2 separate regions of the Homo sapiens genome follow, and region 1 is linked to region 2. Evidence: fine-mapped expression QTL. Tissue or cell type: testis. Region 2 holds a variant in brackets; the other region holds the start of a gene. All regions are shown on one strand. Distances are from middle to middle.

What was found. PIP is the estimated chance that this variant, and not a neighbour inherited with it, causes the effect.
Region 1: APOC1 starts here. The variant in region 2 is fine-mapped to the expression of APOC1 in testis (GTEx, PIP 0.94).

The regions. Positions count from the first base shown.
Region 1 is chr19:44,911,611-44,916,755 of GRCh38, forward strand. APOC1 (apolipoprotein C1) reads left to right here and starts at 2,998. Exons shown (of 4, transcript NM_001645.5): 1 at 2,998-3,123; 2 at 3,262-3,339; 3 at 4,580-4,715. The coding sequence starts at 3,282. RefSeq lists enhancers at 1,034-1,793, 2,552-3,311, 3,312-4,069 and a promoter at 2,011-3,137.
Region 2 is chr19:45,219,196-45,224,340 of GRCh38, forward strand. The region is part of intron 8 of EXOC3L2 (exocyst complex component 3 like 2); the gene reads right to left. Among named protein-coding and RNA genes, the nearest start is that of EXOC3L2, 24 kb to the right of the region's middle. The variant G/T (reference allele first, on the strand shown) is at 2,794.

The DNA of each region.
Region 1 (5,145 bases), 310 kb before region 2:
TTTTTTTTTTTTTTGAGACAGTGCCTTGCTCAGTCGACCACGCTGGAGTGCAGTAGCACGATCATCAATCACTGCAGCCTCCAACTCAAGCAACCCTCCTGCCTCAACCTCCTGAGTAGCTGGGGCCACAGGCACCCACCACCATGCCTGGCTAATTCTTTCTTTTTTGAGATGGAGTCTCACTCTGTCGCCCAGGCTGGAGTGCAGTGGCACCATCTTGGCTCACCGCAACCTCTGCCCCCCGGGTTCAAGCAATTCTCCTGCCTCAGCCTCCTGAGTAGCTAGAATTACAGGCGCACACCACCACACCAGGCTAATTTTTGTATTTTTAGTAGAAACGAGGTTTCACCACGGTGGTCAGGTTGGTCTCAAACTCCTGACATCAGGTGATCCACCCGCCTCGGCCTCCCAAAGCACTGGGATTACAGGAGTGAGCCACCATGCCTGGCCATATTTTAAACTTTTTTGTAGAGATGGGGTCTTACTATGTTGCCCAGGCTGATCTCAAACTCTTGGGCTCAAGCAGATCCTCCTGCCAAAGCTTCCCAAAGTAGTTGGATTACAGGTGTGAGCCACCACGCCCCACCAACCTATGAAGATGTCTAAGCAGACAGGGTGCCCTATCTCACCACATCCCCAGTCAGATCCAGAGGTGGGACAAGGATGGGAAGGAGGTTCCAGAACAAAGGCTGGCAGGGAGTCGTATGGGACAGGAGCTGACCCAGCAACCATCCACAGAGACATCCTGGAGCCTGGGAAGGAGAAGGACAAAGAGCCCCCTTTTTTAAATTTTTTTTATGTTTTTGAGACGGAGTCTCACTCTGTCACCCAAGCTGGAGTGCAGTGGCACAATCTTGGCTCACTGCAACCTCCACCTCATGGGTTCAAACGACTCTCCTGCCTCAGCCTCCTGAGTAGCTGGGACCACAGGTGCACACCACCATGCCTGGATAATTTTTGAATTTTTGGTAGAGACGGAGTTTCACCATGTTGGCCAGGCAGGTCTCGAACTCCTGACCTCAAGTGCTCCGCCCACCTTGGCCTCCCAAAGTTCTGGGAATACAGGCGTGAGCCACTGCAACCAGCCAGTAGCCCCCATCTTTGCCCCTCGCTGAGCCCTACTGGATGTTCTTGGTTATGCGACAGTTTCCCCATCTATTAAAGAGAAACCCCTATAGCAGAGGGGAGGATGAGGTTGGAAAAGCAGGAGCATTGTTATGCTATTCTTGTGGGGTCTGGGAAGCAGACATCTGGGTGGATGTTTGGGGGGTGCTGGGCTTAGTTGGGGAAGTAGGGGGGCCCCTGGGGCTGACAGGGACTGGAAGCTCTGAGCTGGCCAGAGGGATGTTGCAATCCTGCCAGGGTCTTGTCTATGCTGTCCTTTTCACAACCATCCCCCTACTGCCAGGCTGACACGTGGTTGCGGGGGCACAAGGCCAGCCAACCTAGAGTCTGAGGCTAGGCGGAGGACACCCTCCCCACCAGCTGCCAGGGTCACTGGCGGTCAAAGGCAGCTGGTGGGGAAGGCATTGGACTCCAGCCTTGGGGGACGGATGTAGTGATGGTGGGAAGCAGGCTTGGTGCCAGGAGGGGCGTCAGAGGGTGAATAAAAGCAGATAGAGTGTTTGGGGGAGGTAGCCAGCCAAAGGGGGTGAGGCCCGGTGGAAGGGAAGAAGGGACATACACGCAGAGCTTTGCAGCTGAGGGTTTTAATTTTTTGAGATGGGGTCTCTGTCCCACCAGGCTGGAGTGCAGTGGCACAATCACAGCTCACTGCAGCCTCGAACTCCTGGGCTCAAGCAATCTTCCTACCTCAGCCTCTTGAGTAGCTGGGACTACAGGCATGCGCCACCACGCTCGGCTAATTTTTGAACTTTTTTGTAGAGATGAGGTCTCCCTATATTGCCCAGGCTGGTCTCGAACTCCCAGGCTCAAGTGATCCTCCCTCTTCAGCTTCCCAAAGTGCTGGGATTACAGGCATGAGCCACCATGCCTGGCTAATGCAGGTGAGGTTTTTGCAGTGTCATCCAGCTAAGGCGACCCGTTCCCCTCCCAAAAAAGGGAGACTGAGAACCATGAAGTTAAGAGCCCAGAGAATATCACGGTGGTCTGGGGTGCTTCAAGGGCTGGTCTGGAATAAATTGGAGGTGGCACGCAGGGTAGGAGCGCCGGGCCAACTGGGAGACCCAGCAACATAAAGGAAAAGTTGTTGGGGCTGAGGAGGCTTGCTGAGAGAGGGGAAGTGAGGGAAAGAGGTGATCTAGGGACACGGTGTGAATGAGGGGGGGATGAGATCACAGGGTTATTACTGGGAGACCCCTGAGGGAAGATGGCCACAGGGACAGGACAAGGCTGTCTTCTTAAGGGAGGAGACCACCCCTCATATTGTCTTATGCCCAATTTCTGCCTCCAAAGAAAGAAAAAGTAAAAACTAAAAGGCAGAAATGAAATCCACAAGCAGACAGCCCGCGCCACACCCTGGGCCTGGTGGTTAAAGATTGACCCCTGACCTAATCCGTTAGGTTATCTATAGATTACAGACATTGTATAGAAAAGCACTGTGAAAATCCCTATTCTGTTTTGTTCCGATCTAATTACCGGTGCATGCAGCCCCCAGTCACGCATCCCCTGCTTGTTCAATCGATCACGACCCTCTCACGTGCACCCACTTAGAGTTGTGAGCCCTTAAAAGGAACAGGGATTGCTCACTCGGGGAGCTCGGCTCTTGAGACAGGAATCTTGCCCATTCCCCGAACGAATAAACCCCTTCCTTAACTCAGCGTCTGAGGAATTTTGTCTGCGGCTCCTCCTGCTACATTCTGAGTGGGGAAAGGGACTAAGGTGGTCTGAGGACCCCACAGAGTCAGGAAGATTGAGAGGTGAGAGTGCTGAACGGGGAGGGGCTTTGGGGCTAAGGGAAGTGCCCGGGACCCCACCTGACCCCAACGCTCACGGGACAGGGGCAGAGGAGAAAAACGTGGGTGGACAGAGGGAGGCAGGCGGTCAGGGGAAGGCTCAGGAGGAGGGAGATCAACATCAACCTGCCCCGCCCCCTCCCCAGCCTGATAAAGGTCCTGCGGGCAGGACAGGACCTCCCAACCAAGCCCTCCAGCAAGGATTCAGGTTGGTGCTGAGTGCCTGGGAGGGACACCCGCCTACACTCTGCAAGAAACTCAAAAAGGGAGATGAGGGGATCGTGGGAGGGAGGTAGGGAGGGAGGAGGGTGCCACTGATCCCCTGAACCCCTGCCTCTGCCTCCAGAGTGCCCCTCCGGCCTCGCCATGAGGCTCTTCCTGTCGCTCCCGGTCCTGGTGGTGGTTCTGTCGATCGTCTTGGAAGGTAAAAGTGGGATGGGAGAATTGCGGAGTTGGAGATTTGGAAGAGTGAAGGTGGCTACAGGCCTGGGGTCCCGGCTTAGAGGACCTCTGAGAGCTCCGGGGCCCCTTCTGGGTCGTGGTTGCCTCATCGTGGTCGGGTGGGTCTCCAGGTTCTCCCAGGCTCAGTCCCGCAGGCGCCAAATCTGCGCAGGAGAGCACTAGCAACCGATGACGTATTGAGGCCCACACCTCTGGGATTGGCTGTCCTGCTTCGACAGCCTTGAAAGTGGGTAAGCTGGGTGGGGGGCTCTGGGAGAGGTCAGTGCTGAGTAAGGCAATTCCCAGCAGCTTGAGCCCCACCAGGTCACTCCAGTATTCCTCCCCATTCTTTTTTTTTTTTTTTTTTTTTCTCTTGAGACGGAGTCTCGCTCTGTCGCCGAGGCTGGAGTGCAGTGGCGCGATCTCGGCTCACTGCAAGCTCCGCCTCCCTGGTTCACGCCATTCTCCTGCCTCAGCAGGACTACAGGCGCCCGCCACCGCGCCCGGCTAATTTTTTGTATTTTCAGTAGAGACAGGGTTTCACCGTGGTCTCGATCTCCTGACTTTGTGATCCGCCTGCCTCGACCTCCCAAAGTGCTGGGATTACAGGCGTGAGCCACCGCGTCCGGCCATTCCTCCCCATTCTAACCACATGATCCCCAAGGATCTCTATCCATCCCGGTATCCCAACCTAAGGGGGTTCCAATAACAAATTTTTGGCCGGGCAGGGTGGCTCATGCCTGTAATCCCAGCACTTTGGGAGGCCGAGGCGGGCAGATCACTTGAGGTCAGGAGTTCGAAACCAGCCTGGCCAACATGGTGAAACTTCGTCTCTACTAAAAATACAAAAAAATTAGCCAGGTGTGGAGGCACGCGCCTGTAGGCCCAGCTACTCGGGAGGCTGAGGCAGGAGAATCACTTGAACCCGGGAGGCGGAGGTTGCAGTGAGCCGAGATCATACCACTGCACTCCAGCCTGGCTGACACAGCAAGACTCCGTCTCAAAACAAAACAAAACAAAAATAGCTGGGTGTGGTGGTGCACACCTGTAATCCCAGCTACTTGGGAGGCTGAGGCAGGAGAACTGCTTGAACCCGGGAGGTGGTGGTTGCAGTAGGCCGAGATCATGCCACTGCACTCCAGCTTGGGCTACAGAGCAAGACTCCATCTCCAAAAAAAAAAAAAAAAAAACAAATTTTGAACCCCTGCCCATCTTCCTGGCAGGCCCAGCCCCAGCCCAGGGGACCCCAGACGTCTCCAGTGCCTTGGATAAGCTGAAGGAGTTTGGAAACACACTGGAGGACAAGGCTCGGGAACTCATCAGCCGCATCAAACAGAGTGAACTTTCTGCCAAGATGCGGTTAGAACCCTTCCCAGGGCACGGGAGAGCTGGGGTGTGTTTTTGGGTGGAGCCCTGGCAGATGGTCCAAGATGAACAGATTGAAAAAAAAACAAGTCCTGGAGAGGCTGACAACATCCCTCTGGTCACACAGCTAGATCTCAAGGTGCTCAGACTTCAAGGACAGTTTCCCTGACTCCCATCCAGGCCATATTTTAAAAGATGGTCTTGGGCTGGGCACGGTGGCTCATGCTTGCAATCCCAGCACTTAGGGAGGCCGAGGTGGGCTGATTGCCTGAGGTCAGGAGTTCGAGACCAGTCTGACCAACATGGTGAAACCTTGTCTCTACTAAAAATACAAAAAAATTAGGCAGGCATGGTGGCGTGCACCTGTAATCCCAGCTAGTCGGGAGGCTGAGGCAGGGGAATTGCTTGAACCAGGAAGGTGGGA
Region 2 (5,145 bases):
GAGTAAGACTCCGTCTCAAAAATAAGTAAATCAATTAAAAATAATAAAAATTAGCTGGGTATGGTGTCATGTGCCTGTAGTCCCAGCTACTCAGAAGGCTGAGGTGGGAGGATGGCTTGAGCCCAGGAGTTCAGGCTGCAGTGAAATATGATCATGATACTGCACTCCAGCCTGGGTAACAGAGGGAGGCCCCGTCTCAAAAAAAAAAAAAAAAAAAAAGAGAAAAAGTAAGAACTTTAAGACATATTTTTAAAATTCATTAACTATGCACAGCCCTTAAGGGAAGGAGGACGGATTGCTTCCACATTCCACTTCCTAGGTCTGGTTGAGAAAACATGTTCCCCATCTGGAGCTCTTAGGAAGGAGTATAGTAAATGCCTCAGTTAATAACATCCTCCTTTTTGAAAGTTGCCTTTTCTCTCCACCCTTGAGTAGATCCGGTATTTGACGAAACTTGTGAAAGTGGGTGGAACCTGTCTTGCCCCCTCTTTTCTAGAATGCACTGTATATGCGACTGTGACTTTCAAGGAAATGTGTTTGCCATTTGCTGATTTTGGGGGGAAGTTAATTTCTAACTTCTTCCACTGGTAAATGAAGGAAAGTATTGCACCTTGCAAATGCACCAAATGAATTGAGTTCACCATTTTAAAAACCGTCTTTTGGCCAGGCGGATCTCATTGGAAAATTATTAAGGGGCCAGGCATGGTGGCTTACACCTGTAATTCCAGCACTTTGGGAGGCTGAGGTGGGTGGATCACTTGAGGTCAGGAGTTCGAGACTAGCCTGGCCAGCATGGTGAAACCCCATCTCTACTAAAAATACAAAAAATTAGCTAGGCGTGATGGTGGGCGCCTGTAATCCCAGCTACTCGGGAGGCTGAGGCAGTAGAATCTCTTGAACCTGGGAGGCGGAGGTTGCAGTGAGCTGAGATCAAGCCATTGCACTCCAGCCTCAGCAACAAGAGCAAAACTCTGTCTCAAAAATAAATAAATAAATTAATTAAGGGCTGGGCACAGTGGCTCATGCCTGTAATCTCAGCACTTTGGGAGGCTGAGGCTCAAGAATTGCTTGAGCCAAGGGCAACATAGTAAGACTCCCTCTCTATAATTTTTTTTTGTTTGTTTAATTAGCTGGGCATGGTGGCCCACACTGTGGTCCTAGCTACTTAGGAGGCTGATGTGAGAGGATCATGTAAGCCCAGGTGGTTGAGGCTGCAATGAGCTATGATCATGCCATTGCACTCCAGCCTGGGCGACAGAGCAAGATTCTATCTCAAAAAAACAAACAGAAACAAAAACAAAACTCTTTTTCCCCCTGCCCAAAACAAAAAATAATAATAACTTTAAGACAGTGACAGAAGAGCATTAAACCAAGATTGGGCCTTTCGAAGTGTGTGTTTTGGGGGTGAGGGAAGCTGTGCGACCCTGAAGCTGGCATTGGGGTTTATTCCAGGCATAAGACAGGGAGGGGAGAGGTGAGGCTGGGGCAGGGCTGGATTGCACATGGCCTCCTGGGCTTGGGGAGAAGCCCCAGCTTTCTCCTGAGGGCACTAGGCAGCCATGGCCAGTTTGAGCTGGGGAGGGAGAGGGTCAGATTTGTGCTTTACCGAGATGGGAGGAGACGAGACTGAGGTAGAAATGATGGAGGAGGCTGGAAAAAAGGGGAAAGTGGAGATAGGGAGGGGATGAAAGGGGGTGAGGAAGGGGAAGAGGAGAATCCAAGTGGTAGAATTCATAGGATGAAGTGAGTGACCACCACCTGTGGGGAGGGAAGGGAGGTATCTGGAGGACACCAGAGACCCTGGAGATGGGCAGGCCGTGGGTCTCTCCCTGAGACAGGGGCGGGGGGAGGGTCGGGGGAGAGGCTGCAGTCTGGGTAGACACAGGGCATGTGAAGTTCGGAGATATCCCCAAGATGGTATCCATGGGAGGGCGTCTAATTCCCTCTTCAGCTCAGCCTCAGCACCTGCTCTCTCACCCTGACAGCAGCCCAGTTTTCTTTTTTGTTTTTTTGTGGTTTTTTTTTTTTGAAAGATAGGGTCTCACTATATTGCCCAGGCTGGTGTTGAACTGCTGAACTCAAGCAATCCTCCCACCTCACAGCCTCCCAAAGTGCTGGGATTACAGGTGAGAGCCACCATGTCTAATGTGTTGCTGGGTTTTGTTTGTTTGTTTTGAGACGGAATCTCGCTCTGTCGCCAGGCTAGGGTGCAGTGGCGCGATCTTGGCTCACTGCAACTTCTGCCTCCCAGTCAAGTGATTCTCCTGCCTACTCTCCTGAGTAGCTGGGGCTACAGGCACGTGCCACCATGCCCGGCTAATTTTTGCATTTTTAGTAGAGATGGGGTTTCACCGTGTTGGCCAGGATGGTCTCTTGACCTTGTGATCTGCCTGCCTTGGCCTCCCAAAGTGCTGAGATTATAGGTGTGAGCCACTGTGCCCAGCAGGGCTTTTTTTTTTTTTTTTTTTTTGATACAGGGTCTTGCACTGTCTCCCAGGCTGGAGTGCTACGGTGTGAACACAGCTCACTACATCCTCAACTTCCTGGGATCAAGCGATCCTCCCACTTCAGCCTCCCAAGTACCTGGGACTACAGGCACCCACCACCACACCCAGCTTATTGTTTTTTATTTTTTGTAGAGAAGAGGCCTCATTATGTTGCCCAGGCTGGTCTTGAACTCCTGGGCTCAATCGATCCTCCTGCCTCAGCCTTCAAAAGTGCTGGGATTACAGGTGTGAGCCACCACGCCCGGCCAGCTCTGTTTTCTGAACCTCCAAAAATGGAGCAAGGCAT[G/T]AGGGAACCCACATAATGCCTGGGCCCTGGTGATTCTCCCAGGGTCCCCACCCTGGCTGATGCTCACATACACATGCACACTCATGCACACGGCGCACACACACACACAAACACTCCCTCAAAAGCCTACAGCTGTTCACACACTCACACAGGCATGCGAGCACAGCACTGTGTCCTGTCTCTTCATGTCTCTAGCTGGTTGTTTTTCTCTCCTTTTTTTTTTTTTTTTGAGACGGAGTCTCACTCTGTCGCCCAGGCTGAAGTACAGTGGCATGATCTCATTTCATTGCAACCTCTGCCTCCCACGTTCAAGCGATTCTCCTGCCTCAGCCTCCCGAGTAGCTGGAATTACAGGCGCTTGCCACCACGCCTGGCTAATTTTTTGTATTTTTAGTAGAGACGGGGTTTCACCATGTTGGCCAGGCTGGTCTCAAACTCTTGACCTCAAGTGATCTGCCTGCCTTGGCTTCCCAAAGTGCTAAGATTACAGGCATGAGCCACCACGCACAGTCTATCTCTAGCTGGTTCTGATGTCTCTCCCTCTGTCCCTCTGTCCCAGTCTCTCTCCTTTCCTTCCTCCCTCACCTATCTTGTTTTCTCAGTCTCTCCCTGTTTCTTTTGCTTCTGCTCTCTCTGTCTGTGTCTCTCTCTCCCTCAAAACATACATAGTGGTTTATAAGGCCAGGCACAGTGGCTCATGCCTGTAATCCCAGCCTGGGTGACAGAGCAAGACTCTGTCTCAAAAACAATTTAACAAAAACAAAAAAGCAAACATACATAGTGGTTTATAGACTAAGACCGTAGATTCGCAATGGGCTTTGCCACTTGCTGGTCTCATCTTCCTCACCTGTAAAATGAATCTACAACCCATCTCATAGGATTGCAGTGAGAATTAAACGAGCCGATACTCTCAAGCACCTGGCACAGTGAGTCCTGAGAATGTGTTTGCTGTTGCTATAAAGTCTGTATATTTAAGATAGCAAGCTGGGTGTGGTGGCTTACATCTGTAATCCCAACACTTTGGGAGGCCAAGTCAGGAGGATCGCTTGAGCCCAGGAGTTCAAGACCAGCCTGGGCAACATAGTGAGACCCTGTCTCTACCAGAAATACAAATAAATAGGCAGGGCGAGGTAGCTCACACCTATAATCCCAGCACTTTGGGAGGCCAAGGTGGGCAGATCACGAGGTCAAGAGATCGAGACCATCCTGGCCGACATGGTGAAACCCCGTCTCTACTAAAAATACAAAAATTAGCATGGTGGCGTGGTGGCAACCGCTATAGCATGGCAGGTGGCAGTAAGTGCTTTGGAGAAAAATAGCAGGGAGTCGGGAGGGGGGTTTGGTCTAGGGGCTTCTGTTTTTTTGTTTTTTGAGAGGGAAGTCTCGCTCTGTCACCCAGGCTGCAGTGCAATGGTGCGATCTTGGCTCACTGCAACCTCAGCCCCCTGGGTACAGGCAATTCTCCTGCCTCAGCCTCCAGAGTAGCTGGGAGTACAGGTGTGTGCTGCCACACCTGGCTAATTTTTGTAATTTTAGTAGAGACGGGGTTTTGCCATATTGGCCAGGCTGGTCTCAAACTCCTGACCTCAAGTGATCCGCCCACCTTGGCCTCCCAAGTGCTGGGATTACAGGCGTGAGCCACCGCACCCAGTCAGAGCTTCTGTTTTAAATGGGGCAATCAGCGAAGGTCGCACTGAGGTGACATTTGAGTCAAGACTTGAGGCAGGGCATGGTGGCTCACACCTGTAATCCCAGCACTTTGGGAGGCCGAGGTGGGCAGATCACATGAGGCCAGGAGTTTGAGACCAGCCTGGCCAACATGGTAAAACACCATCTCTACTAAAAATACAAAAAAATTAGCTGGGCGTGGTGGTGCATGCCTGTAATCCCAGCTACTAGGGAGGCTGAGGCAGGAAAATCGCTTGAACCTGGGAGGCAGAGGTTGCAGTGAGCTGAGATTGTGCCATTCCACTCCAGCCTGGGCGACACAGGGAGACTGTCTCAAAACAAAACAAGACTTGAAACAGGCATGAGAGGCAGCTATGTGGCTGTGAGAGGGAGAGCATTCCAGGCAGAGGGAAGGGCAAGTGCAAAGGCCCTGAGGCAGGAATGTACTTGCTGGGTTAAGAGACAGCAAGGGGGCTGGCGTGGCTGGAGTGGGATTAGTGGGAGAGCCAGGAGTGGGGGGAGGGTGGCGGGCAGGGCAGGAGATGAGGTCTGAGAAGGAGAGTAGTGAGGGAAGGGGCTGATTGTGCCGGGTTGTGGGGGCTACAGTGGGATTTTGGCATTTGCTCTGCGTGAGCTGGGAGTTGTGGGAGGATTCTGAGCAGAGAGAAGGGGAGTGTTCCACTG